3 separate regions of the Homo sapiens genome follow, and regions 1 and 2 are each linked to region 3. The links come from fine-mapping of genetic effects on gene expression. A gene starts in region 3. Each other region holds a variant in brackets. All regions are shown on one strand. Distances are from middle to middle. Region 1 overlaps SLC1A7 (solute carrier family 1 member 7). Region 2 overlaps SLC1A7 (solute carrier family 1 member 7). Region 3 holds the start of PODN (podocan).

The links. PIP is the estimated chance that this variant, and not a neighbour inherited with it, causes the effect.
Region 1: its variant is fine-mapped to the expression of PODN in lung (TOPMed, PIP above 0.99).
Region 2: its variant is fine-mapped to the expression of PODN in atrial appendage (GTEx, PIP above 0.99).

What each region holds. Positions count from the first base shown.
Region 1 is chr1:53,120,078-53,128,077 of GRCh38, forward strand. All of the region lies in intron 2 of SLC1A7 (solute carrier family 1 member 7), which reads right to left. Among named protein-coding and RNA genes, the nearest start is that of SLC1A7, 19 kb to the right of the region's middle. RefSeq lists enhancers at 529-5,306, 1,843-2,642. The variant A/G (reference allele first, on the strand shown) is at 4,052.
Region 2 is chr1:53,131,648-53,139,647 of GRCh38, forward strand. SLC1A7 (solute carrier family 1 member 7) reads right to left here. Exons shown (of 11, transcript NM_006671.6): 2 at 2,703-2,782. Among named protein-coding and RNA genes, the nearest start is that of SLC1A7, 7.0 kb to the right of the region's middle. The variant A/G (reference allele first, on the strand shown) is at 3,922.
Region 3 is chr1:53,056,810-53,067,281 of GRCh38, forward strand. PODN (podocan) reads left to right here and starts at 5,404. Exons shown (of 11, transcript NM_153703.5): 1 at 5,404-5,499. RefSeq lists a silencer at 5,382-5,569.

The sequences.
Region 1 (8,000 bases), 62 kb after region 3:
ATTAACCCGCAGAGGCAGTGGGAAGGCCCAGCCTGTCTCAATCTGGTAATTGCTCCACTTGCAGGGGTGGGGGAAGGGAGGCAAAGACTGCCAGGCTCCCGGTGGAAGGAGAAAAAGGCTGCTGACTGACCCTCCCCTGGTTCTCGCACCAACCCCTGAGGTGGGACTCCTGACCCCATCTCACACTGGGAGGTGCAGGGCAGCTCTGCCATTTGCCAAGCGCTGGTTACAAAGGTGAGGGATTAGAAACCACGCCCCCACGAAGTCGAAGTTGTAGTCGCACCTCCCTACAGAGAGAGCCAAGAGAGCCTGCAGGCTGCCCAGCTGCCGGATGCCCCTCCCCCAGTTTGGGGTGACTCCCCATTGCCCTCCGCAACCATCCCAGCTCCTTCCCTGCCCTGCGTCCCCTGGGGCTGGGCCGCTCTCCTCCTCGTCCACTCTGCTCCTGGAAGTACCTTTGCACTGGATGTTCCTCCCGCCTGGAACTCTCCATCCACCATCCCTTCCCCAACCCTGGCCCAATGTCCCCAACCCTGGGTCAGCTTAGACATCACTGCCTCTGGGAAGCCTTCCCTGACTGCAGCCATCTCACCCACTTCCCCAGGGCACCCTGTGCTTCCCAGTTTGTTACGGAGCACCCTGCTAGTGGGCTCAACCCGAATCCCCAGGGCCTGACCCAGCACCTGGCACAGGACGGGCTGGCACGGAGTGCCGGGAGCCCAGTCCCCGCCTTCTTCTCCTTTCCTGTCCTGTGGATGCTGCTCAGCTCTGAAGTCTCCACTCAGGCACCACCGCCCTCTGAAGGCTGCCCTGGCCCTAGGCAAGGCGAGGAAGCTCCCGTAAGCATCCCTCACTCACTGCGAGCCCTTGGGCATGTGACTGGGCCTGGGTGTGCCTCAGTTTCCACTGAGGATGAGTGCGGATGATGCCGGTTTGCTGTGAGGCCAAATCTTGGGTTGGAGTGGTACATGGCATGTGATAAGTACGCACTGCATTTCAATTGTTATAATTTCCTCTGTCTTCACTGTCTGTCTGTGACCACCTGTCCCAGCAGACTGGAACTCCTCCAAGGCAAGGCTAAGTCTAGTTTGGCTCTAGGTCCTTAAAACCCAAGGTCTGGCACAGGCCTGGGTGCAGGGTTGCTGATGTGTGTGATGCTGAACCAGGGTGACATTCTAGATCAGACGTGAAAAGGACGACTTGTGTGCCCAGGTGACTGAGCAGCCATTGAAGGTTTCCTGAGAACAGATCACCAGTACCAGCCTTGGTCCCCGGATGGGCTTAGGGGAATGCCCACGGTGTTGTGTGTCTGTGTGACATCGAGACAGTTGGCACCAGAAATCTGGGAAGAGATGGGGGCTTGGTGAAGGGACAAGGAGCTGAATGTCCTGGGCAGTAGAGAGGGTGTCTAGAGATCAGCTTCAGGACTCTGCTTTCGGCCCTCTCCTTTCTGGTCATTTTAATCAATGGCTTGGCCAAGGCCCCCGACAGCATGTGGAGCAGATTTGTAGAGGACAGGAAGCTGGGAGGAATAGCTAATGTGCTGGATGAGGGAGTTGGGAATCCAAGCAGACCCCAGCAGTCAATTCTGACACAATGAGCCTGAACACAGACATGTGTTGGGCCGCACTTGGCTTCCACAGCTTGGAGTGCACAAACACCGGGGTGGGAGGGGGAGGCTGAGCCGTGGCTGCACACGTGGGGAGGGGACTTTGGGCTTTGTTTGCTGCCAGCTGGTGAGTCACCTGGGACGCGGGGCTGCCAAAGGGCTGGTGGGCCCCCTGCCTGTGGCTTCAGAAGCCCGGGGGCTGGTGGAGGCTGCTGCAGACCTGCTTTGACTCATTGAGAAAGGGACGGGGCGGGGTGTGTGTGTCCTGTAGAGGGCAGCTGGGTAGGCAGCAGGTGATAGAGGCACGTGCCTGGTTGCGGGGAGCAGCTGGGGGGCTGGGGGGCAGGTGCTGTGTGGTCCGGAGCGGAGCAGACCTGGGAATGCTGGGGATGATGGGAAAAGCCCTAGGGCTCTCAGCTCAGCACCAGGAATAACTTTCTGGCAGAGCTGTCCTGCTCTGGCAGGAACTACCTTGAGAAGTGGTGACCTCCCAGTCACTGGAGGTGTGCAAGCAACTTGCTAAAGTCACACAATAAGTGGGTTCAAGCCCTAGTCTGCTGGCATGACAGCATCCAGTCACAACCTCCTGGCAGTGGGAGGACCTGAGGGACAGTGAGGAGCCCCAAGCCCTGCAGCCAAGTCCTTGGGCTCTGGCCTTGGCTGACCTAGCCACAGAGGCTCTCCCCAGCTGGCCCTGGGATGCAGCTGCAGGAAGTCTACCAGACAGGCCGCAGGAAGGAGGCTTCGGGGGTCTGCGGGCAAGAGGGGTCCCTTCAGTCCATCTGAGCATCATGGCTTACTCTTCTTTTCCCCTGAGCAGAAGGCAGGCCCAACAGCTGACAGCCAGTGCCATGCCCATTAGCGCCAGCTCCAAGTCATGCTTCCCAGACGGCTCTGCCAAAGCCCCACACTCAAGCCGACTCCTCCTGAGGCCTAAGGCAGCATGCCCAGACTCCCACTCAGCTAAAGTCTGGGCCATCTCGTCTCAGCACACCCTCCCAAGGGCAGAAATTCCTCCACCACCTCTGCTTGCATATCTCAGAGGACAGAGCACTCACTACCTTCTGAGTCAGCCCCTCCACTAAGAGCTCGTGATGCTTATTAGGAAGTCCTTCCTGGTGTCACAATGAAATCCGCCTCCGGGGAAGAGCATTGGGCCACACTGGGCCCAGCCAGCCCTCTGGAGCCACATGGACCAAACCTCTTGGCCTCCACCTTGATTTCCATGGAGGGAAGGTGGGAGAGAGTGTGGGGCTCAGAGTGTGGGCGGTGGGTGCTGCTACCCTGGCATGCCCTGCTGCCCTCTGAAGGTCCCTCCTTCCCAGGCCTGGGTGCCAAGAGGGCGCTCCACTGGGACCTGTGAGAATGATAAGCTTGAACTGGATCAAAAGCAGAAGCTGGAGGAGCCACAGCTGCAGCCCTCAGAGCTCACTGTCAGACTGCCGGCCATTCTCAACCATTCTCCACCAAGAAGGCTGCATTCCCTAAGGCAGTCAGGGCCAGGTCCAGTTTCCAACTCCACGTGAACTGAATCCCCCACCCCTTCCTTGCCCATGTGGCAAAGATCATGAGGAGTCAGGGGAACTCAGGTCTCCTGCCTCCCCTCCCTGCACCAGCAGGGCCCCTGGAGTCTGCCCCGCACAGGGCTCAGGCGGGGCCATCCTGTGGGCCTCTCTCCAGTGCAGCGGTTCTCCACAGAGAAGGGCGGCAGCACAGTTTTCAAAACCTCACCCACCTTCCCAGGCTCTGAGATATGTGCCCACCCTGCCCGGTGTTGAACATTTGCACTGGGTGCTGTGGGGCTCAGAAGGGAATGAGGTGGGTCTGTGTTCTTCCTGGTGCTCTGGCCAGCGGGTGGGGAGACCAGCAGCAGAGCAACACCAACCCGGGGGTGGGGGTAGCTGTGACTGAGCGCCAGAGCAGGGCCAGCCCTCCGGGCATCGGGCTGGGCCTCCCAGAGGAGGGCACAGCTGGATGGAGCCTCGAAGGCCAAGTAGGAATTCTCTAACTGGAAGGGAGCGAGAGCATGGAAGTCTGTGGTGCAGGATAAAGCCTGGGAGCTTTTCGGAGTCACCAGGCTGGAGGTCTGACCCCACCCGCAGCCCACAGCGGGCCACGTTTCCCCTCTTGATGAGTAAGGCAAATCATCTGACTGGGCAGAAGGGCCAAAGGCAGGTCCCAGGGCTCACACCAGAAGGTTCAGTGGAGCTCGCCAAACTGTGGCTACCCCCTGACTCGGAGGGCAGCATCCGAAGCACAGGCTGTACCGGTTTGGCCCTCTGGCCACCCGCTCCTCTGCCTCCTCCTGCTCACGGCCTGTCCTGGGGAGTCTGGGCAGCCCCCTGCACACTGGCTCCCAAACCAGACTTTGACGGCTGCTTGGCCCAGGCCCATTTCCAATAAGTTAGAATGTGGGTGTTTGGGAATTTTCTGCCACACTAG[A/G]GTTCCTCAGGAAGGGGAGAAGGGAGTGTTGAGTTTCTCTGGCCAAACATGATTTCCTGATTCTAAGAAAAATCAGTTTAAAGTCCTTACAAGAAATAGGAAGGAAAACAATACATACACAACACACACACACACACACACACACACACACACACACACACAACACAGCTTCACAGACAAACCCACACCCACGCTTGGCTGTCTTTGCTATGTTGTGGAGCTCACAGAACACTCTATCATGCACAGCCCTAGTGAATCACAAACACATGGATTCAGTTTCCCCTGAAGGACGCCTGGTTTAAGAAACTGAAGAATGAGGGGAGAGAAGGGTTTGGCAAAAAGCAAGTGGAGAATTGGAGGCTCTAGCTGGATCCAGATGCTGGTCTGACTTACCCCTAATTCCTTGTGTCAAGCTTGTCTGGGGATGTGTGAAAACAAGGCTCAGTTGACCTCCCAAGGTGAGGTGCAAAGTCTAGCCTCAGTGGAATGGGGCCATAATGGGCCACACACACAAACACACATGGGCACACAAACACACACACAGAGCACCTGCCGGGACCTGCTTTGTAAATTAGCAGACAGCATTGTGCCTATTTTATGGCTGAGGCTAAGAGGGTGAACTCGAGGTGAGACCACAGTCCCGAGGCAGGGCAGCTCCCTCAAGAGTCTAGCAGCCTCCCAAGTGCCTTGTGACAGGCAAAAGACTTTGCAAACTCTGTGCCTCCCGAGTGGGTGAGTAAAACAGGATCACCAAGGTGAAGGTGCAGCGTGGAAATTCTTATGACATCACATTGGGGGAAAACCAAAGCAAGCAGGCTACAGATTTATTTTTGTGGAAGATACTTTTTGGGTTATACTGTAAGTTGAAAGCAAAAAGGATTGGGGTAGTGACAAGTGGCCTGCTCGGGGAAGAATGGGAAAGTAAGGCTCCCAGGCCCTGAAGGCTTGACTTTTCTAAATAAAGATATAATTGGCATGGCGTTAGTGAACTGTGGCAGCACACGGAAGACGGCTGAGGAGGGCAAAACCATGGGAGGGGGGCCCCAATGCAGGTCCCGTCCAGATGATTCGTTCCTATACTAATGTAATGTGAGGCAGAATTTTCTAATTTTTGTCCAAGGCGTCTCTGTTCCTGGGTGGACAGAGCAAGTTCCCCTGCAGGCAATTTTATTTTGCAAAGAATCTTTTGAGCAGCAAATGTCGGATGAGAAGGCAGCACTGTCAGGGGAAGGGAGGAGCTGTTGTGGCTTGATGAATGCCTCCTCCTTGAGAACTTGAGATCTGCAGAGTTATGGAAAACTGTGCCCATTTGCACCAGAGGATCAGGGCCTTCTGAGAGGAAAAAGACTAAGACCTGAGCCCCAGTTCCCTGTGATTTGAAGTTAGCACCAGGGTACGCTAGAGTCCCCCAGCCGAGATGGCCTGGCATTCAAGGCCTCCAAAATGAACCCAGTAGGAGGGAAAAGGGAATTGGGGCTCAACTCCCGGGGAGCTGATCTCAGGACATGACTGAGGCTGCTTTAGGAACAATTATTGAGCACTTCGGGGGGACCTAGGGGTCTGGAGGCATCCCTGTGGCCTGAGCAGCGTTGTGCACCTGCAAGGGGCAGTGTGCAGACTTCCACCAGAGCGTGCGGGACCTGCGTTCCACAGGGCCACCCCGTGGAGGGAACCAGAGCAGCAGGGCTGGTGGCAGGACCCCATGTTCCAGCTCTGTTTACACCAGAAGCTTCCACTGAATGAAATAAGCTGACTGTGGCCACGGGGTGGAGGCCTCCAGAGGGACACACTGGGCTTCCTGCTAGTACAGGGGAGTAGGACCATATTCAGTGTATTCAGTTTCAAGTCAGTAAAGCAAAAACAAAGTGTAATTAATTTTGCCTTTGAAAATCTCTTAAGTTGCCCATAGAGTCCAGGAGGTATAGTTTTGTGTAAGTTCATTCAAGACAGTTTCCCTTCCAGCCTTGGAGTGGGTTGCTGTTTCTTTAAGCAAACACCAGATGAGAGCATCAGCATACACTCAGAGGCCGTGATCTAAAACACCCACCCCTCTGCAGGCCCTAGAAACTCTCTGGCTTCAGGGAGGTGCTCACTGTTCAGGAGGTGCCTGGGCACAGCGGCTGGTGGAGGCAATTCAGGCCCTCCTCTCTCGTGGCCCTCACCTGGGGAAGAGCCCTTGGAAGGAGGAGTCTCCTGTCTCATTTAAATGATTTTCTCCCTTTTTCAGAGCACATGTAATTGAATTCACTTAAGTTAAATGCACATATGATGGGACTCCACTATAAGGCGGGGGTGGTGGGAGGGCTGAAATAAACTGAAAACCGCAAACCTGGAGTTACGCCGGGTTATACAGTTAAATAACTAAATGTACCCACCAGCAAGCAGATTTCACCAGTGGGTTCCCTGCATGGTAAGCCCACAGAGAGGCTCTGGCCAGAGCCTGCATATGACTGTCCTTGCTGGCAAGTGTCTTGATCTCTGGGAATGAATAAATCAGTATGTGGCATATTTGATTGCCCCTTGCTAGCATCGGGGGACAGGCCCAACCAGCTCTGGGGCCCAGACAGTTGGGCTTCTGATCCCATCAGCCAAGGACCTCACCTCACATCTGGTGAATTCACCAGTAAGAATAAGAACAAACCTTGTAGAGAAGAAATCACAGTGGCAGAATTAGCAATGTGGAGTGAGAGGATGGTTTCTTCTCTGTTATCCAAAATGTTTGTAATTTGCTTATCTAATTTTTTTTTTTTATGAGATAAGGTCTTGCTTTGTTGCCCAGGCTGGAGTGCAATGGCATGAACATGGCTCACTGCAGGCTCAACCTTCTGGGCTCAAGCGATCCTCCCACCTCAGCCTCCCAAGTAGCCAGGACTACAGGTGCCCACCATCATGCCTGGCTAATTTTAAAAGTTTTTTTTTTTTTTTTTTTGTAGAGATGGGGTCTCACTATGTTGCCAGGGCTTTATCTAATTTTTTAAAATATGAAAACATCTTTAAAGTTCAGCTCCTAACTGTCCTCCAGGGCCCATACAAATGCTGATGGTGAGACTTTCCCTGAACTCTGCTGCCGCTGCCCTCTGCTGCTTCTTATTCATTGAAAATGTATTGATCAGGCACAGGCAGTAGCAGGCCCTGTATGGGGCAGTGAGAAATCAGATGAAAGGGGGAGAGTTATATTCTTCAGAATTATTTTTACAGTAAGGGAGCAGTCCTTATTCAGAAGAAAGTTCTTGATGAACTACTTGGACAGAAGCTGAGCAGTGGCTCCACTCAACCCAAGCCGGCTCCAGGGAGAGAGGTGAGCAGAAGTGACTTCTGAAAGACATCCAGCTGCTCTGGGGACAGAGGAAGAGAGAAGGAAGGTTCCAGGAGAGAGAAGGAGGTGGACAGGCCCTCAGGCCACCCCGATGACCCAAGCCCTGGTATATCCTCCTCCCGCAGTGTGGCAGTGCCTGTGACTTCTATGAGAACACAACAAGGTGGTGGGATGTCTCCCTGTGGTTATGTGGTAGAAGACTTTGACTCAGAAGACTGGTGAGGACCGGGCTTCCTGCTGGCCTTGATGACCTACAGTGCTATGCTGTGAGCTGCCTGTGGAGACAGCTGGGTGGGGAGCTGCAGGCAGCCTCTAGAACCTGAGTGGCTCCACTGCACAGCTGTCAATGCTGGGCCCTCAGGCAGCAGCCATGGGGAATCACTTCTGTCCATGCCTGAGGGAGCATGGAGGCGGATTCTCCCTGGTTGGGCCTCCGGATGAGAACAGAGCCCAGCGGACACCTGGATTGCAGCCTAAGACTCTGAGCAGAGGACTCAGCCAAGCCCGCCCAGACTGCTGGCCCAGGGACTGAGGCAACCATGAAGTGTGTTTATGTCACTAAGTTTGTGATAATTTGTTACACGGCAATGATAACGAATACACACAGACACACACACAGAGAACCAGGAGATA
Region 2 (8,000 bases), 74 kb after region 3:
GAAAGCACAATGCATGATTGCAGGATCCATTAATTAATTCACTTGACCAGTATTAATGAGCACCTACTATGTGCCTGGCACTTGGCTAGGTGCTGACAACACAGAGTTGAATCTAGGCAGAGTAGCCTCGTTAACTTTGCAAAGCTTACAGCCCAGTGGATAAAGAAACCAGTTAACAAGTGAATGCATATAGAATGACAACATATGATATGTGCTGTGGCCGGGAGGGAACAGGGTACAGTAAGGGAGAGCCAGGGTGGCATGAAGGGGTTGGTGGGGAGGGCCTTCCTAAGAAGATGATGTGCAAGTTGAGATGGAAAAAAAGAGGAAGAAGAAGAGATGTAAGATGTTGGGGAAGCATGTTCCAGAGGAAGGAACAGCACGTGTGGAGGCCCTGAGATGGTAAGGGCTTGGTCTGCTTAGGGAACTTGAGGCTGGTGGGACTGGAGTATGTGACATGGGATGAGGTGGGGTGGGCGAGGCAGATCATGCAGGGCCTCCTAGACCAGGTTAATGGTCTGCAGGTTGATTCTACATGTCATGGAAGCTGTTGAAGGTAAATGAGGGGCAGGGCCCAATCTGCTTTTCTCAAGATCCTTCTGGCCACTGGGTGGAATAGATGGGACGGGGACAAGAAGTGAGGCGAGGAGACCAGTGAGGTGGCGGTGGAGTCTGGACGTGAGAAGAGAGTGCCCGGGCCTGTAGGGTTGGGAGGAAGCTCCATTCTTCGACTGAGTAGGCAGAATCCACTGGAACTGTGGATGGGGCTGTGGGGTTGAGAGAAAGAGGATAGCCAATGACAGGCCCGATGGAAGACCTGGGTGATGGAGCTGCCATTTGCAGACAAGAAGAAAACAGGAAAAGGAGGCAGTTTTCTGGGTGGAACTTCAAGTTGGTGACATTAAACTTGAAGTGTGGCTGGGCACGGTGGCTCATGCCTATAATTCCCGCACTTTGGGAGGCTGAGGCAGGTGGATTGCTGGAGCTCAGGAGTTTGAGACCAGCCTGGGCAACATGGTGAGACCCCGCCTCTACAAAAAATACAAAAAATAATTAGGTGTGGTGGTGTGTGCCTGTGGTCCCAGCTACTTGGGGGGCTGAGGTAGGAGGATCACTTGAACCCAGGAAGCCGAGGCTGCAGTGAGCTGAGATTGTGCCACTGCACTCTAGCCTGGGCGACAGGGCAAGATCCTATCTCAAACAAAACAAAACTTGAAACGTTTGTGAAACATCCAAGTGGAGATGTCAAATAGGCAGTTGGTTAATGAAGTATGGAGCTCACAGGAGAGGTCTGGGGAGATCTCCATCTGGGGGCATTGGGCTTGTAGGTGGTATGTTAAAGCTATGAAATTAGATGAGAAAAGGCTGGAGAAGCTGAACATTTGGAGGTTGAGTAGAAGGAGAGAGACCAAGATGGAGGGGCAGAAAGCAGGCAAAAAGTTAGAAGAGTGTGAGTCCATAGGGAAGGGCATTTCATGAGGGCAAGAGTAATCAGCTGCACCCATGGCTGTGGAGAGGCCGTGTGGAAGAACTGGACGTGTCGTACAGATTCAGCAACACAGAGGACTGCTGACCCTGACAGATTCACAGGCTCAGTGAATGACTCCAAAGATGCAGAAAGAGGAGACAGTCACTAGAGTGAGTTGAGGAGTCAGGGAAGGCTTCCTGAGGGAGGTAGCATTTCAGCAGAGCCTTGAAGGCTGAGTCCTGAGAAATTTAAATGCTGCTTGCAAAGGCCTCTGTGCAGAAAATACAAAGCGCCCTTGGCCTGGGGATTATCTCCACTTCACAAAGGGGGGAGGTCCAAGGAGCTGGCTCACTGCTCAGCAGCAGGGAGGCTGGGAGGCAGAACGCATGCAGAGGCTCATCCTCTTTCCTCTCTGCAGAGGAGTCCTGGAAGATGAAGATTTCTCATGGCCTCAGAGCAAAAGGCTCTTAGACACCACCTGGAGCAGCCACTCATTATACATCTGGAATACTCAAGACCTGGACAGGGATAGGGTTGCTCAAGTTCACCTAGCACATCAGTGAAAGGGACCAAGTGATCTCCCATGATTTCCATGGCCCGCACCCTACTGGGTAAGGTCTGAATTCTTCAGCCTGGTGTTCAAGGTCGTTCATGATTGGGCAAGAGCTCACCGTCCAAATTCATCTCGCACCATCCCGCCCTTGTCCCCAAGTCCCAACCTCCTGAGTGCTCAGCATACACAACATATAGTCTTCATGACAACCCTTCGAAGTAGGTGTTGTTATTCCCATTTTACAGATGAGGAAACTGAGGCGTAGAGAGGTGAGGTAATATGTCCAAGGTTACACAGCCAAGCCAGGCTGTGATCACTGGAGTATCCTCAGAGTTAGTTCTCTTTTCCCCAGGCCTTGCTGCATTACCATGAACAGCCCCTCCTCTGGGAAGCCAACCCTCAACTCCCTGGCCTTGAGCTATCTTGGAGTCGGGTCATATCCGTTGATTCCAAATCACCTGTTCTATCCACTAAAAATTCTACTGGATGGAACCAACAACTGGGGCCACTGAATGACTCAGAAGCCGGCAGCCCACGGCACTGCCCATAAAGGCCCCACGGTCACACTCATCCCAGGGCCTGTGGTTGCTCTCCAGCCACCCACAGCAGGAGCAGGGCAGCAACAGAAGCCATCCTCTACCCTCCTGGTTCCGGACCACCTGGTCAAACCCCCGCTCTCACCTGGAGACCACCAGTGGCAGGATCATCATCTTCAGCATCCTCATCAGGAGCTCTCCAGGGAACTGGAAGTAACTAATTTCCTGAAAACACAGTAAGAACTGGGGTTATAGCAAGAGATGCAGACTGCACAGTGGTTCCGTTCTTCACAGTCTTTGAAGCACTATCCCATCTGACTCCCCTGTCTAGCACATGGCAGCAGAGACCATGGAGAAAGAACTGGCTTTGGAGCCACAGAACTGGGTTCCAATCCTGGTAAACACCCCGCCTCCACCAATCCCCCACAAGCTGTGTGGCCTTAAGCATCTTCTGTGACCACTCTGAGTTTTGTATTTTTCTCATCTGTAACATGAGGGTAATAACTACAGTAGTCCCTACTTATTCTCAGCGGACAGGTTCCGAGACCGCCAGTGGATGCCTGAAACCACAGAGACTGAACCCTGTGGACGTTGTTTTTTTCCTATATGTACATACCTACGATAAAATGTAATTCATAAATTAGACACAGTAAGAGATTAACAGTAACTAATAATCAAATGGAGCGATTAGAATATACTGTAATAAAAGTTATGTGAATGTGGTCTCTCTTAAAATATCTTCCAGTACTGTTCTCACCCATTTTTCAGACCATCGGTAACTGAAATCACAGAAAGCGAAATGGCGGATAAGGGGGGACTGCTCTGCCTCACAGGGTCATTGGGGGGCTTAAACGGGAGAATGCACGCAAGCACTTAGCACAGCGCCTGGATGACAGCCAATGTTTGGTAATCCTGAAAATAACAGCTCTCCTCCATCTGCACCACGCATCTGCCTAGCCATGGAATAAAATCTCTCTCGTGTAGCAGATGGCAGGTGACCAGAGGACAGAGCCGAGTACTGTTCATGCATTCATTCAACCCGCATCGTGCCACGCATCACAGTGGGTACCCCAACATGAACTAGGCAGGGTTCCTGTCCTGAGAAGTTCCCAGCCTAGCTGGTGAGGAGACCCACTCCTAAGCAGACCATGGCCGCCTTGCGAGTCAGTTTCTCCATCTGTTTTGGGTCCATTCTCTAGTGCTTCTCCTCGAAAATGCTGAGAGAGAGAGGATCAGATTGAATGGGTGCAACACCACGCGGTAGAAACAGCCCCCTTTGGCAGAGTTCTTACGCCTGACCCCTTCCTAGGCCGCTGGCTCCAGCCTGTCCACGGATCTCTGACTAAGGCGCCAACTCCTTGCCC[A/G]ATAAGCTGTCTCGCAAGTAACAGTCACGTGACCAGGACCTGACAACTGAAGCAGAAGGGCTGCTAAGCCCAGTTAAATCAGACTTTCAGATAACAACATATAGTTCATTCTTATACTAAAAAAAAAAAATGCTGTTTATCTGAAACTCCAGTTTAACTGGGTGTGCTGTTTATAAAATTTTTTAACTTAATTCAGTTCTGCTACTTCTGGCAACCCTGGCATGGGGCCACTTTCTTCAGAGGGTGAGGTTGTGGGCGAGGCAGGCAAATGGACTTTCAAACATCATCCAAGTTGAATTGTTGTACTTGCAACTATTTTTTTTTAACCAAAGCCAAACATACTCGGTTGATGATCTGATGCTTTAAAAATCTCCAAATCATCAAATGTTGGTGCTATGAGGGGACTCTTGAGATCTTCTAGCCCAGCCCACTCATGTGATAGATGAGGAAGCTGAACCGCAAAAGGGAGGTGACAGACCCACCCAATGTTAACCGCAGCACAGGACCAGGACTGCTAACATTTCCAATGCACCAGAAAATCTGCTTTTTAAAGAAATATGCCCATCATGACTCTCTCTCTCTCTATATATATATATATAAAATAATATATATAATTATATATTATATATATATATTTTTTAGACAGAGTCTTGCTCTGTCACCAGGCTGGAGTGCAGTGCAGTGGTGCCATCTCGGCTCACTGCAACCTCCGCCTCCCAGGTTCAACCAATCCCCCTGCCTCACCCTCCCAAGTAGCTGGGACTACAGGTGCGCGCCACTATGCCCGGCTAAATTTGTGTATTTTAGTAGAGATGGGGTTTCACCATGTTTGCCAGGATGGTCTTAATCTCCTGACCTTGTTGATCCGCCCGCCTCGGCCTCCCAAAGTGCTTGGATTACAGGCGTGAGCCACCATGCCCTGCCAACAATATATTTTTAATTAACTTTAGTCCATATATTTATATAAACATATATATAATATATATAAACATATATATAAACATATATAATATATAAACATATATAATATATAAACATATATAATATATATAAACATATATAATATATAAAAACATATATATATTATATATATATATATTTTTTTTTTTTTTTTTTGAGACAAGGTCTCATTCTGTTACCCAGGCAGGAGGGCAGTGGCATGATTTCAGCTCACTGCAACCTCCACCTCCTGGGCTCAAGTAATCTTCACACCTCAGGCTCCCGAGTAGCTGAGACCACAGATGTATGCCACCAAGCCCAGCTAATTTTTGTATTTTTTGTAGAGACAGTGTCTCACTATGTTGCCCAGACTAGTCTCAAACTCCTGGACTCAAACAGTCCTCCCAGCTAGGCCTCCCAAAGTGCTGGGATTATAGGTGTGAGCCACTGCACTGGCACCCACATGTATATATTCTTTAAGTTAAAAGTGCTCTAATAGCCAGGCTCAGTGGCTTATGCCTGTAATCCCAGCACTTTGGGAGGCCAAGGTAGGTGGATCACTTGAGGTTAAGAGTTCGAGACCAGCCCAGCCAACATGGCAAAACCCCATCTCTACTAAAAATACAAAAATTAGCTGGGCATGGTGGTGCATGCCTGTAGTCCCAGCTACTCAGGAGGCTGAAGCACAAGATTCGCTTGAACCCAGGAGGCGGGGATTGCAGTGAGCTAAGATCGCACCACTGCACTCCAGCCTGGGCAACAGAGGGAGACGCTATCTCCAAAAAAAAAAAAGTGCTCTACTGATAAAAAGGCAGCTCTTGCCTCACCTCTCTCTATCCCTATCTTGCAACTTCCCAGTAGTGAACATGCTCAGTTCTTCTAGCTGTTTCCCATAGTATCACTATTTCTAGATAATATGGTCATAATGCTATTTCTTGATTCATCATTTTGACATCTATCAATTTCCCTGCCATGATTGATGAGGAGTTAGTTCTTACTCCCTTTCTCTCCACCTATTTCAGCATTATATTTATATCAATTTTTTAGTAAATCAAGATTTACAATGTTTTGATCGCCAAACAGTGTTTACCATTGAGCCAAGTAATGTACTACAACCATGTCTCCTTGCTTGTAGCCTAAAGTTAATTGACTGATTTTTATTTGTCTTGTTTTCTGGGAATCACCCACTAATTTCTTCCAAACATTTTAACATGTCTACTAAACTACCTAACAATAGTATTTTCTGCTCTCTCAAGCACATCAGTTCTCTTTTATCCTGCCTGGGGCCTTGGTCTGTGAGCTTTCCACCTTCCTGCTCCAGTTTGGACTGACTGCTCTCTAGGCCCAGTGCTTGTCATGGTTTCCTTCTTGGTTGTCATTCTGGGACTTGTCCTTTAGAGGGCCCCCTGTTTCTGGGATCCTTTGTCCTCTTGGTTTACTTCCTTGTTTTGCTGAAACATCTCCTTTGGTAGCTTTCTGAGAAAGAGTGGATGGGAGATAAACTTTTCTGAGTCCTTACATGAGTAAAAATGCCTTTATTCTACCTTTACCTCTGATATTAGCCTGGCCATGTGTGAGATACTTCGTTGGAAATAATTTCCCCTCAGGTTTAGAAGGTGTTTCTCCCTTGTCTTCTAGCTTCCAGTTTGCTTAAGATGTTCAAAGCCATTCTGATTTCCTGTTCCTTAGATGAGGTTGGTTTTATTCCACCAGAACCATCCAAAGATCATCAGTTTATCTCCACTTTTTGGTAATTTCATGGTGATGGGCCATAGTATGGGGTTTTCTTTCTTTTGTAAACAAAATTGACAGTGCTATGCTTGCCTTTCACTTCTGAGAAACTGCTTAGATTCTCTGCAAACTGTTTCTCCTCTATTTTTCTTCTGTTAGCTGTCTCTAAAAGTGTCATTAGGTAGCTGGACATTGAACATTCTAATTTTCTTATATTTTCTTTTTCTATTTTCATTTATTTTTGTTCTAGTTTCTGGGAGATTTCTACAACTTTATCCCAGTTATTGACATTAATTTTTTTTTTTTTTTTGGAGATGGGGTCTCACACCATGTTGCCCAGGCTGGCCCTGAATGCCTGGGGTCAGGCAATCCACCCGCCTTGGCCTCCCAAAGTGCTAGGATTACAGGCATGAGCCACCAGGCCTAGCCAAAGTTTTTATATTAATATATAATATTTGTACATATTTATGGGATACAGTTGGTATATTGTTAAATACACTGTGTAATGTTCAAATCAGGGTATTCAGGGTCTCCAACACTTCGAGTATTTATCCTTTCTATGTGTTGGGCAGCTACTCACATTTTTATCTTAGTTCTTCTATTTTTAATTTCCCCAGATTCTTTCTTGTTCTCTGATTGTTCCTTCTTTTCACATCCCCTCTGTTGTACGGTAACTATATCTTCACTCGCAGCTCCAGAAAGCTTAAGAGGAGATTTACAAAGCTTCCTTCTCCTCCCCGCCTTGTCTCTGCTTCACTAGAGACCCACTTTTCTCTTTGTTTCTCTCATTAGAGACCCCCTTTTCTCTTCGTTTACTCTGTTTCACATTAGGAGCCTCCTCACATTTCTGGTGGCGTGGCTTTCTGCTCGTATGTAAGTTTGAAGCGCTAAACTTCTGCATGTATGAGTAGGGTTTGTCAACTGACGGCCCTCAGGGCAGGGTGACAGGTGCTGATCTGGCTTTTTCACTGGGGCTGGGTGGGATGGTAGAGGAGTCTCCTTTATAGCAGAATTTAGAGATCTTTTCTCTGAGGCCTCAGTGAGAGAAGTCTCTTCCTGCCTTTGGCTGAGGAATGACATGGTGCCTAAGCTCAGCTGACAGCGATCTGAAACCGTGCTGGGGACCCCACTCAGACAAGGATGTCTGTTAATTAGTTTGAAGTAGGTGCCTCAGCATGGCCCTCTCCCCAACACACACAGGGGTGGCCCAATACCCTCAAGTCCAGCTTCTCTGGTTCCTTGGGGCAGGCAGTGGGTGGAGATGGGTGGATGAGTCCCCCAACTGAATTGGAAGGTCCCTAGGGGTCTAACTGCTCTGGTTACAAAACTCCAAACCATGCCCAGGCTTTCAACCCCAGCCTCACCCTGCCTAGTGCAGCATCTTGCTCTGTTACGTTCTGGAGTCTGCA
Region 3 (10,472 bases):
CCTGACCTTGTGATCCTCCCACCTTCTGCCTCCCCAAAGTGCTGGGATTACAGGCGTGAGCCACCATGCCTGGCCCATGATAATCATTTGAGTTCACATAATCAGCTGGCTTCAGAATGAGGACAATTTGCTTTTATTAACTGTTTACATCCTTATGTTTTCCTCAAGAACCATTAAAATTTAATGGTCTCTATACTTAAGTGAATGGATATAGAATTATTTAGTTTGACTTTCAGAAGGTTTGCATTTTAGCCGAAGATTTAATTCTAGCTGCCCATGCCATGATTACTTTTTGAACAGAAAGAAGTCACTTGATGTTATTGACTAGGAAAAAAAATGGTAATCAGCCAGATGGTACCTCTGGGCAAATTACTCTGTGGGAGTAAGCTTGTTTAGAAACCACACTGATATGAATTAGGAATGTTGAGTATGGTACTAAACAGCTAATGAGGGGCCTGAAAGATTTATGAGCTATTAGGAACCACAGCCATATCTGGCCAAATTTTAGAGTTTTTCTCAATAGAGAGTTACAAAATCTTCTGGAACAGTCTCGTATTATATCTATCTGGAGACTGCTGCGAACAAACAGCTCTTTAGTTCTTGGTAAGAACAAAGAATATTGGGCCAGATTTCTGGCCCCTAAGAAATGTGGAGTCTGTTCCATTTGGCTGGAAGTTTAGTTTGGTATGGAATTTTAGCCAGACTTCTAGGGGAAATAATTTTTTAAAAATGTAATGAAAGCTTATTGCAAAAAGTCATGTGCATTTGGTCTATCTATTCTATTAATGGTCATTTAAACACTTTGTAAATATTCACAGTACTGTTTCCAGCAGCATGTAGTAAGTGCTTGACCTTTTTGTTTCTGAATTTATGGCCATAAACTTTTATGTAGAACTGGGGGAAATTGTAGTCTGCTGTTTATTTAAATTGCAGATAGTTGTCTAACCAACTACCAAACAGTGATTTTTTTTCTCTCTCTGGAAGTTGTTGTGTGATTCACCTTTTAGAATATGGCACCTTCTGTTGTGTACAGAGCACTCTGTTCAAGATTAGACACTTTATTAGAACAGAAATAGAAAATAACTTGACACGAAGACACAGTAGTATAGGAACAATTGACTAGGCAGGCTGAAAGAAGACTTAAGCTTGGCAAAATGATACCCAAACGCAGGGTGTGATATCAGTTCACGAATATTCGAGAGATGGAAAGACCAAAGAGGGAGAGGAATTATTTTGCTTAGTTATTAGAAGTAAGGGGAAGGAATATAGAAAGAGAAATTTCAGACTGAATACCATTGAATTTCCAGACAATAAAAATCGGTCATGAGTGGACTAGAAGCTCCAACCACAGAGATGCTTCTAGACCCACAAGGCAAAAACAGGGCATTTCATTGTGGGAGATGTACCTTAATAGTGGCTGAAAGATCATCTGAACAGGAGAAAGTGGTATTTCATTGACAGCCGCTCTTGAGGGTTTCTCCGTTTGCAGTTACCAAAATCTTTTTTTCTTCTATATGCTAGAAAGAAGACTTGAGATCTTTTTGCTTACTTGTTTATACCCTGACTGGTTCATAACTTAATTTGGAAGAAACATGACATACCTTTGGAAGAAACAGTCTTCAAAAGAAATGAGAATTCAAAAGCTTCAAGTTTTTGTAGTATGAAAGTAGTCTGAATTTGTTTTTTGTCTTTTTTTCATCCATTTTTATTTAGCTTAAGGTAACAGCTAGTTGGCTGGCTACAGTGTGGGAGACAACTCTCACTGGAGTTGGAACCTGAAGACTGAGTTTGAATTCTGACTCAAGCACTCATTAGCTGGGTCACCTGAGCAAGTTGCATATCCTCCCTGAGCACCCCTTTTCCAAAATAATGGGGCAATAATACCATCATGTTTGCTGTGAAGATCAAGTGAAACAGTGTGTGGGAAAGTGTGTACCAGTTTTAGTTATTCATGTTTGTTTTATTTTCTATTGTTGATGAAACAAATGATCACAAAGTAGTGATCATAAATTTATTATCTAACGGTTCTGTAGCCTAGAAGTCTGGTTGAGTTTGACTGGTTTCTTTGCTCTGGGTCTCACAAGGCTGAAGTCAAAGTATTGCTGCCCTGGGCTCCTATCTAGAGGCTCCAGGGGAGAAGGTGGCTCTGCTCCCACATTCATTCAGATGCTGGCAGAATTCTGTTTCATGCCGCTGTAGGACTGAAGTCCCTGTACCATTCCTGGCAGCCTACGGGTGTTTCACTTTCTAGAGGCTGCCTTATTCCCTAGCTTATGACCCTCTTCATCTTTAAAGCTAGTCAAGTCCTTCTGATGTTTCAAATCTCTCTGACCTCCTCTTCTGCTTCATCTTCTCTCTCTCCAGCTAGAGAAAGTTCTCTGTTTTTTAGGGCTCATGTGATTAGGCCCACCAGGGTAATCCAGAATATGCTCCCTATTTTGAAGTCCGTAACCTTAGTTACATCTGCAAAGTCACTTTCATCATGTAACATATCCAAAGGTTTTAGGGATTAAGGTGTGGATATCTTTGGGGCGGGGTTGGGGGGTATTCTGCCTATCACAGTGGTATTTTAGGGTGAGAGAGGAGAGCTTGCAGAACATGAGATTCTTGCCCTGGAGGACTCACAATCCAGTGGGAGAAAGAGGAAAAACAGCAAGAAAGTTCCAATAATAAAGAGTCTGTATGAGATGTTATAGCAGCCCAGGAGACTCCTTGTGTACTTGACTTGGACTGAAGATTTTTCATTATTCTCTTCTTGTTCCCTGGAGAGTCTTGCCTTCATCAAGGTCCTTCAGATGGAATTCATATACCCCAAACACCACCATGTGATTTGATTCCTTAAATGTCCAGAAAATCAAGCTGCTGCCATAGCTATTTGGGACTCTACTGCTTAATAAGATCTCAGCCCTCAGCTCAAAGTAGGAGGAATTATTTTCTTCTTTGATGATGAGGCATAACAAGAGCTCATTGTTCCTCATCTCCTGTTTCTCATCATCAAACCCCACTGAGAGCCTTCTTGTTCTTTACTCCTAGCTCTCTCTACCGTATCAATGTATGTCTTTCCTCCCTCCTCTTTGGAGTGTTCTTGTTTCTTATTGTTTTGAATTAGAAGGCACTTTCCCTGGGCAGTACAGAGGTTACTGTTTAATTCTTGCCACTTGTCATTTCTATTTTAATAATGTTTCCTGGCTATTTGGTCAGGTCTGGGTGATAGTTTTGCAGTAATAGCTACCATTTACTGAGCACTTACCATGTGACAGGTACTATGTAAAGTTCTGTACTTGCATTCTCCAATTTAGACATACTGTGAAGTGTAGGTACTATTTTTATATTCATTTGAACCTAGCTAGGATTTGAACCCAGCTCCAAGCTTAAAGCTTGTACTTGACACTATGTACTTCAGTAATATCAAACAGGAGCTGAAATTGAGGGGCAGCATGAAGGAATTGAAGCAGCACAAGTAGATTCAGGAAACCTCAATTTCAAACTCTGCCTTTACAATCCTTCTGAAAGAGGATTTGCTTCTAGAGCACCAAGGTTGCCTCCATTTTTCCACCAGAGACACTCAAAGTGATTCCTCCTGCAGCTTGTATCTATAGTAGCAGCCAACCACAAAGCACACATGGGCATTTGCTCAGCATTCCATAGAAAAGCCTATTTCTCTGGGAGGTGGTGGGTACTGGGTGTGTGGTGTGCCGTGTAGCGGGCCCCTGAAACACCTTGGCCTTAGCAGTTATAAGTATAGAGAATATCTTCCCCACAGGGCTAGGATGATTAAGATATTTTAAGGATTTAGGATGGTGCCTGTCATTTATTAGGCACTCAATATGTGCTGGCTCTCATTGTCCTAAAAGATTTTTAGTCCATGAGTATTCAAGCTAGTAGAATCCTGTCCTTTTAGCTCTACTTGAATCTAGGCTCAATGTTCAGGAGAAGACACGAGATGCATCTCTGTTGGTCCAGGTCCAATGCTGTGAATCACACCAACTCTTGTGAGTTTGAGCTCCAAAAGGACTGGAATTTGAGGCCAAAGAAGGCAAAATATTTTCCCTCCCCATTCTTGCTAAGTTCTTGGGTTGTTGGTGTAATGGAAACAGACAGTCCTGGGTTCAAATCTAGACTCTACATTTGCCTGCTCAAGTTACCTGCCTGTTTCCATCATGGGAAGAACTTGGGCTGTGGAGAAGGGTAAACCTGGGGTCAAAACCCCAGCTCTGCCAGTGAATGGGCATTTTACTCAGTCAAGTATCCTTTCTGAGGCCATCTCTTTTCTATAAAGTGGGGCAGCAGCAGTTCTTCCTTTGCGGAGTTGTGAAGCAGAGCATAATGCATATGGTATAACCTCACGGGGGCGGCAGCCAGTGAAAAGTCTGGAGCTGCTTTACAGGGGCCATTCATTCATTCATTCATTCAGGTTAAGGTTGAGCAAGGGGTCCCACGTGTGACTTATGCATCCTTCTCCCTCTTCAGTGGGAGGACAGCCAGGTGAGGCAGCTGTGGATGCCCTGCCCACAGGCCAGAGCAGGTAAGGGGAGGAGGCTTGCTACACAGTGGAGGTGCCAAGTACCACCTAAGCCCAGCCGCATTGCCTGTTCCACCGCCGAAGCCCCTGGCGCCAAACAGTGTTGCTTCAGCTGGTAGTAGTTAATACTCCTTTACTTGGAAACATTTTCAGTTCCTGGGAGCAATATGGTGGTGTGAGGTCTCACTGTTCACCCGCCCTGTTTCTCTGTGACTGGGATCTGCATGTCCCCGACTCCGGCCCAATTTACCATTCTTCAAGGCTCACCAGGCTGTGGGCCCAGGGCCAACAGGGATGGGAGTGGAGGGTGGGGTGGAGCGTGGGGAACTTTTCCGGGAAGAGGCCCAGCAGGGTCTTGGCTGGCGGCCCCATTAGCCACGGCCCAGGACCCCAGGGTGGGAGAGTGAACGGAAAGGTACTCGTGCCTGGAGCGGTTGCAACATCCTCTGTAATGAGGAAGATACAGCTCAGAGGCACTGGGTCGAAGGACCCCTCTCCCCAGCCCTCCTTTCAGGTGTCGGGGCCTAAAGGGGGTCCAGTTCCAGTGCGGAAGGCTGGGAACTAGGAAGCGTCGCGGACCAGACAGCCCGCCTTCCCGGTCTCCCGGGTGGGGGTTCGGGGGGCGTGGTGCGGCGGCCGGGGCTGAGAGGGGTCGGTGCGGCGGCTCTGCCTCCCCGGGAAGTGGGAACCGGCCAAGTCCCGAGCGGGGAGGGGCAGGCTTTCTCCTGCCCGCGCCTGGGGGGACCCTACGCCTGTGTCCGAAGGAGGCCGGCGTCCAGCAGATGCTCCCGGGGCGGGTGGGGAGTGGGGGAAGGGGGCGGGAGAGAGGCGGGGAGGAGAAAACCCACAACAAAACTTGCGTCGCGGAGAGCGCCCAGCTTGACTTGAATGGAAGGAGCCCGAGCCCGCGGAGCGCAGCTGAGACTGGGGGAGCGCGTTCGGCCTGTGGGGCGCCGCTCGGCGCCGGGGCGCAGCAGGTACAGGGCGCTGGCAGCCGGGGTGGGCCGAGGGGCCGGGGGCTGAGCCCGGGCAGCGCACTCAGACGTCCCCGCCTCTCCGGATGGCTCCAGCAGCTGCCTGGGGCGGGCCCGCCGCATCTCACCCCCTCTGTAGGACCCTGCACCCAGGGCACGGCCGGAGATCTCCTCCTCTGGAGTGCGACCCCTGCGCAGTCAGGACCCAGGCAGGGGCCTTCTCCTCTCTGAGCAGAGGCTGGTCCCCGTCCCCAGGCCCCTCCCGCTGCGCACATCTGGAAAGAATCTGAGGGCGGTTGGGGGCGGGGGCTGGAGTGGGAGGACGCCGGCGGGCGACAGGGAATGTGGGGGGCAGGTGGAACTGCGTAGGGGCGGGGACCCCTGTCATGAGAGCCTGGGCCCGAAGTATCCCCGCGTCTTTCCACGTCAACTCATCAGGCCCCCTAGCGACTCCAACCTCCACCTCTTTATAGATAGAGAAACTGAGGCCCAGAGAGGGGCAGAGGTCTGGCCCCAGGGCGCGTCGGACGCCGGGTGGGTCCCCTCCGGGGCTCGGCTTCCCCGGCCACTGTGCCGCCCCAGCTTAGTGCCAACCACTAGTTGAGCTAAAGGTCTCAGCTGGCGGTCTGGAGTCCGTCTATCTGTCTACGCGGCTGCTTCCCAGCCGGGACAGCTGGAGGGAGGAAGGGGTGGGGGTCCGCGAAGCGCGAGGAGCGAGATCCGCGCCTTCCTGCGAATGAGGCAGAAGCCCCAGGTTCCAGGTCCCCGAGCCACAGCCCGGCCTGGGGCGGGGGACGAGATCTTGGCGTTGGAATACCTGACGCTCCGTCAGGTGGAAGAGGAGGTGGTGGCGGGGCTGCGAGGCTCCTGGCAGCCTCGGGGGCTGGGGCTAGGAGAGGCAGCCGCAGCCTTTTGGAGAGGAGCAGGCGCGGCAGCAAGGGGCGAGCACCCCGGCCCCGGTGCGCGCGGCACTGACTGAGCTGGTCCGGGAGGCGCGGAGGATGCTCACCCAGCGCTTGGAGTGAATTACTGACCTGTCTGCCCTTCGATTACCGGCTGGCCAGGGAAGGGGAAGCTGTGGTCTGCCCTGCTCCACGAGGCGCCACTGGTGTGAACCGGGAGAGCCCCTGGGTGGTCCCGTCCCCTATCCCTCCTTTATATAGAAACCTTCCACACTGGGAAGGCAGCGGCGAGGCAGGAGGGCTCATGGTGAGCAAGGAGGCCGGCTGATCTGCAGGCGCACAGCATTCCGAGGTAGGTCACTCAGAAGAGCCCGTGGACTGCCCTGGGAAAGACCAGGGGGGACTGCTCTGGGGGTTCTGCTCCCTCATGTCCACTCTTAGGGCCCAAGACCCAGTCTACTCTAGCCTAGAGTGCAAGTTAAGAAATGTCAGAGTCACACGACTGTTTTCATGTCATCTGTGGGAGCACACTTTATCCCTTCTGTCTGAGTCTAGGATAGGGGATTACTAATGGTGGCACTTTTAGGCTTGGTGTAGTCATACATGCGAGTGCTGGCCGTGTCCTGCTTGGAACCCTTAATGAGTCCCTATCACCAACACTAGCATGGCGGTGGAGGCCCTTGGCCACCCAGGCCTCCCGCCCTGTTGACCCTTCCTTAAACACACGTCCCTCTCCTCTAGCCCCACCCCTACCTTTTGATCACACTCTACCTCTGCCTGGAGGGCTGTTTCTCCCACTCCGTCCACTTGGAGAACTCCCGCTCAGTCTTCAAGGCCAACTCAAGGCTCTGGGCAGGAGTCAGAAGACCCACATTTTACTCTTGGCCTTGGCTTTAACACACTAATTTGCAAACTGGGGGAGTCAGAGCAGATCATACTGCAGATCTTTAGATCTTTTCCAACTCTGCCTTTCACAAAGTCGTTCATTCAGCAAACATTTCCCCAGCACCCCCACTCCATGCTTGGGGAGACAGGGGAGGCCCAGCTGAGACTTGAAGGATAAAGCCAGCCAAGGTTGCTGTGGAAGCACCCAGAAACACCCTAACCCAGCCAAGGGGGCAGGAGAGGCTTCCCTGAGCAGGGGCATTTCAGCAGGAGCTTTCTAGGGATGGGCAGCAATGCCAGCCCTTTGTGCTTGAGCTCCAAATCTGCAGAATAGAAAGACGAACATGTAGTCCCAGGATTTCTATTAGAGTCAATAAGATGCAGCTGTTTGGGGCCCAGCACAGAGCAGGTGGTCAGTTGATTTGTACTGACTTTGAGTGGAGAAGGAAGGTAGTGCTGAGGGCTGAGGATCCGCCTCTTGATTTGGGGCTCCCTTTCCCTTCCTTCTTCTAGTCCTACCTTAACCTCACACTTTGGGCCTTGAGGTTTGGTTCCCTGGTAGTGGTCAGGGGAGACAGTGGGTCCCACTTACTTTCTCAGTAACAGTAACCCCTGGTATGTCACACCTATTTGATGCCAGCGGTGACAGGCTGAGACTGCTATTTCATTTAATTCTCACAAGTAGCTCCCAACTCCATTTCTTAGACTAGTTAACAGAGGCTCGGAGCAGTAAAGTGGCTCATCCAGGCTTACACAGCAGTCAGAATTGGAACCCATGCCCTTCTGTCTCTAAAGCTCTCCATATGAGAAACACTCACTGCTGGCTGAGCTTCCCCGCTGTCCAGGGGTTTGAGATGTTCCTCACCAGGTGGACTTGAAACTCCTGGAGACCAGGGAGCTCCCCTGTTCTTCCCCACACACCTCCCACATGGCTGGGTACACAGAAGGGGCCTTGGGGGGCTTATCTTGCTCCATTCTTAGAAGAGCAAGGCTGGGTACAGTGGCTCATGCCTGTAATCCCAGCACTTTGGGAGGCCGAGGCAGAAGGCCAGAAGTTCAAGAACAGCCTGGGCAACATAGTGAGACCCCATTTCTAAAAATAAAAAATTAGCCAGATGCCAGGTGTGGAGGCACATGCCTGTAGTTTCAGCTACTCGGGAGGCTGAGGTGGGAGGATCACCTGAGCCCAGGAGCCCAAGGCTGCAGTGAGCCATGATTGTGCTACTGCAGTCCAGCCTGGGTAACAGAGGGAGACCCTGTCTCAAAAAAAAAAAAGAAAGTTGGAAAATTTAGACTCAGATGGGTCAGTGGTATGGCCAAGGTCACACGGCAAACCAGGTAGTAGGGCTGGACCTTCCCAGTGCCTCACAGCCCTGAGAGTGGCTGGCGAAGCTGGAGGGACCACTCTCCAAGCCCTGTCTGTCCTTCTTACCTCTTCCTCCATTCCTGCAGTCCAGCACCTCTCTCTCTGCCAGGGGCAGGCCCCTTAGCCCTCACCTGTCCCAATTGCGCACCCTCGTGTCCACCCACAAACCTGCCTGTGTCACGCTCCTGCCTTTCAGTGGTCCTCGTCTTCCAGTGATAAGGACCACACTCCCTAACCTGCCCTTCATGTCTCTCCTTTGTGGCCTGGGCTTGTGGCGACTGTGCCTTTTTGTATCACTCCTAGTCCCTATCCCCCACCTGACAGTCTTGTGAGTGTGAACTGTCTTGCCTCTGGGCCTTTGCACACATTGACCCCCTTGCTTGTATGACCCTTTCCCTTTTGCCTGGTAGTCATCCCTTAGAATGGGATTATAATACTCAGCTTATACATAATGCTGCAGACCAGCACTGTCCAATAGAAATGTAACGTGAGCCACAAATGCAAGCCACATATGCAATGCAAAATTTTCTAGAGGTCTTTTTTTTTTTTTTTTTTTTGAGACGGTCTCACTCTGTTACCCAGGCTAGAGTGTAGGGGTGCGATCACGGCTCACAGCAGCCTCAACCTCCTGGGCTCAGGTGATCCTCCCACTTCAGCCTCCTGAGTAGCTGAGACTACAGGTGCATGCTATCTCACCTGGCTAATTTTTTGTATTTTTTAGAGAGACGAAGTTTCGCCATCTTGCCCAGGCTGGTCTCAAACTCCTGGGCTCAAGTGATCTACCTGTCTCAGCCTCCCACACTGGGATTTACAGGCATGAGCCACCTTGTCTAGTCAGAAGCCACATTTTAAAAAGTAAAATGAAACTGGTAACATTTATTTAACCTGTTCAAAATATTATCATGTAATCAATATAACAATAAATGGGATTTGATGTCATTAATATTAATATTAATAAGGTATCCTACATTATTTTTTTGTACGACATCTTTGAGATCTATGGACACTACATTTTACACTTACATCTCCATGTGGACCAGCCACATTTCAAGTGCCCAGTAGCCACATGTGGCCAGTGGCTAATGGAGTGAACGGTGCAGCTGTGGGCCTCTGAAGGGCAGAAGCCACGCTGAGTCTTCTGTCTGGGTCCCCTGCTTCCTGTCATGCTTGGCCTAGGGGAGAGCAGCGTAGCATTGTTGATATGACGTGGGCTGGGAGCTCAGCTTTGCCACTTAACAGCTGTTCACTGGCTGACCCCATTGGGCTCAGCTCCCTGAGTTGTAAAGTGGTGATGATAACATTTTCAGTACGGTGCAGAATGTTAATATAAATTCAATATTTTTATTGATGCAGTTTACAGATTTTTACAGATACCAAATGGAAGGCGAGGAGGCAGAACAGCCTGCCTGGTATGTGCACAGGATATGTGAGACCAGAGCTCCTTCCCCTGGATTCTTCTCCTTGGCCTTCTGCCCTGATTGAATTTGGGACCTGGGCCTGTGCCCACACTCTCGCTCTTAGAACCCCGGACTACAGTGGGGTCAGATGGGCAAGTGGCTAATGGCTGTTGAGCTGGCCGTGGAGTTTATGATGTGCTATGGGAATGATGGTCTGTAGACTGATGTTGGGTCAGGGGCAGGGGCAGCAGGGGTGTGGTGGAGTGAGCGTAGGGCTGGGCTGCTGTGGGAGCCAGTTGCTGCTGCCGACTGATCCCTGGAGCCTGGAAGCTGCAGGTGTGCCGGGCTCCCTGTTTCTCTGCCGGGCCAGTGGCTGAGACCTGAGTCTCCATCAACCATGTGGATCTGTAGGGTCAAGCAAGCCTG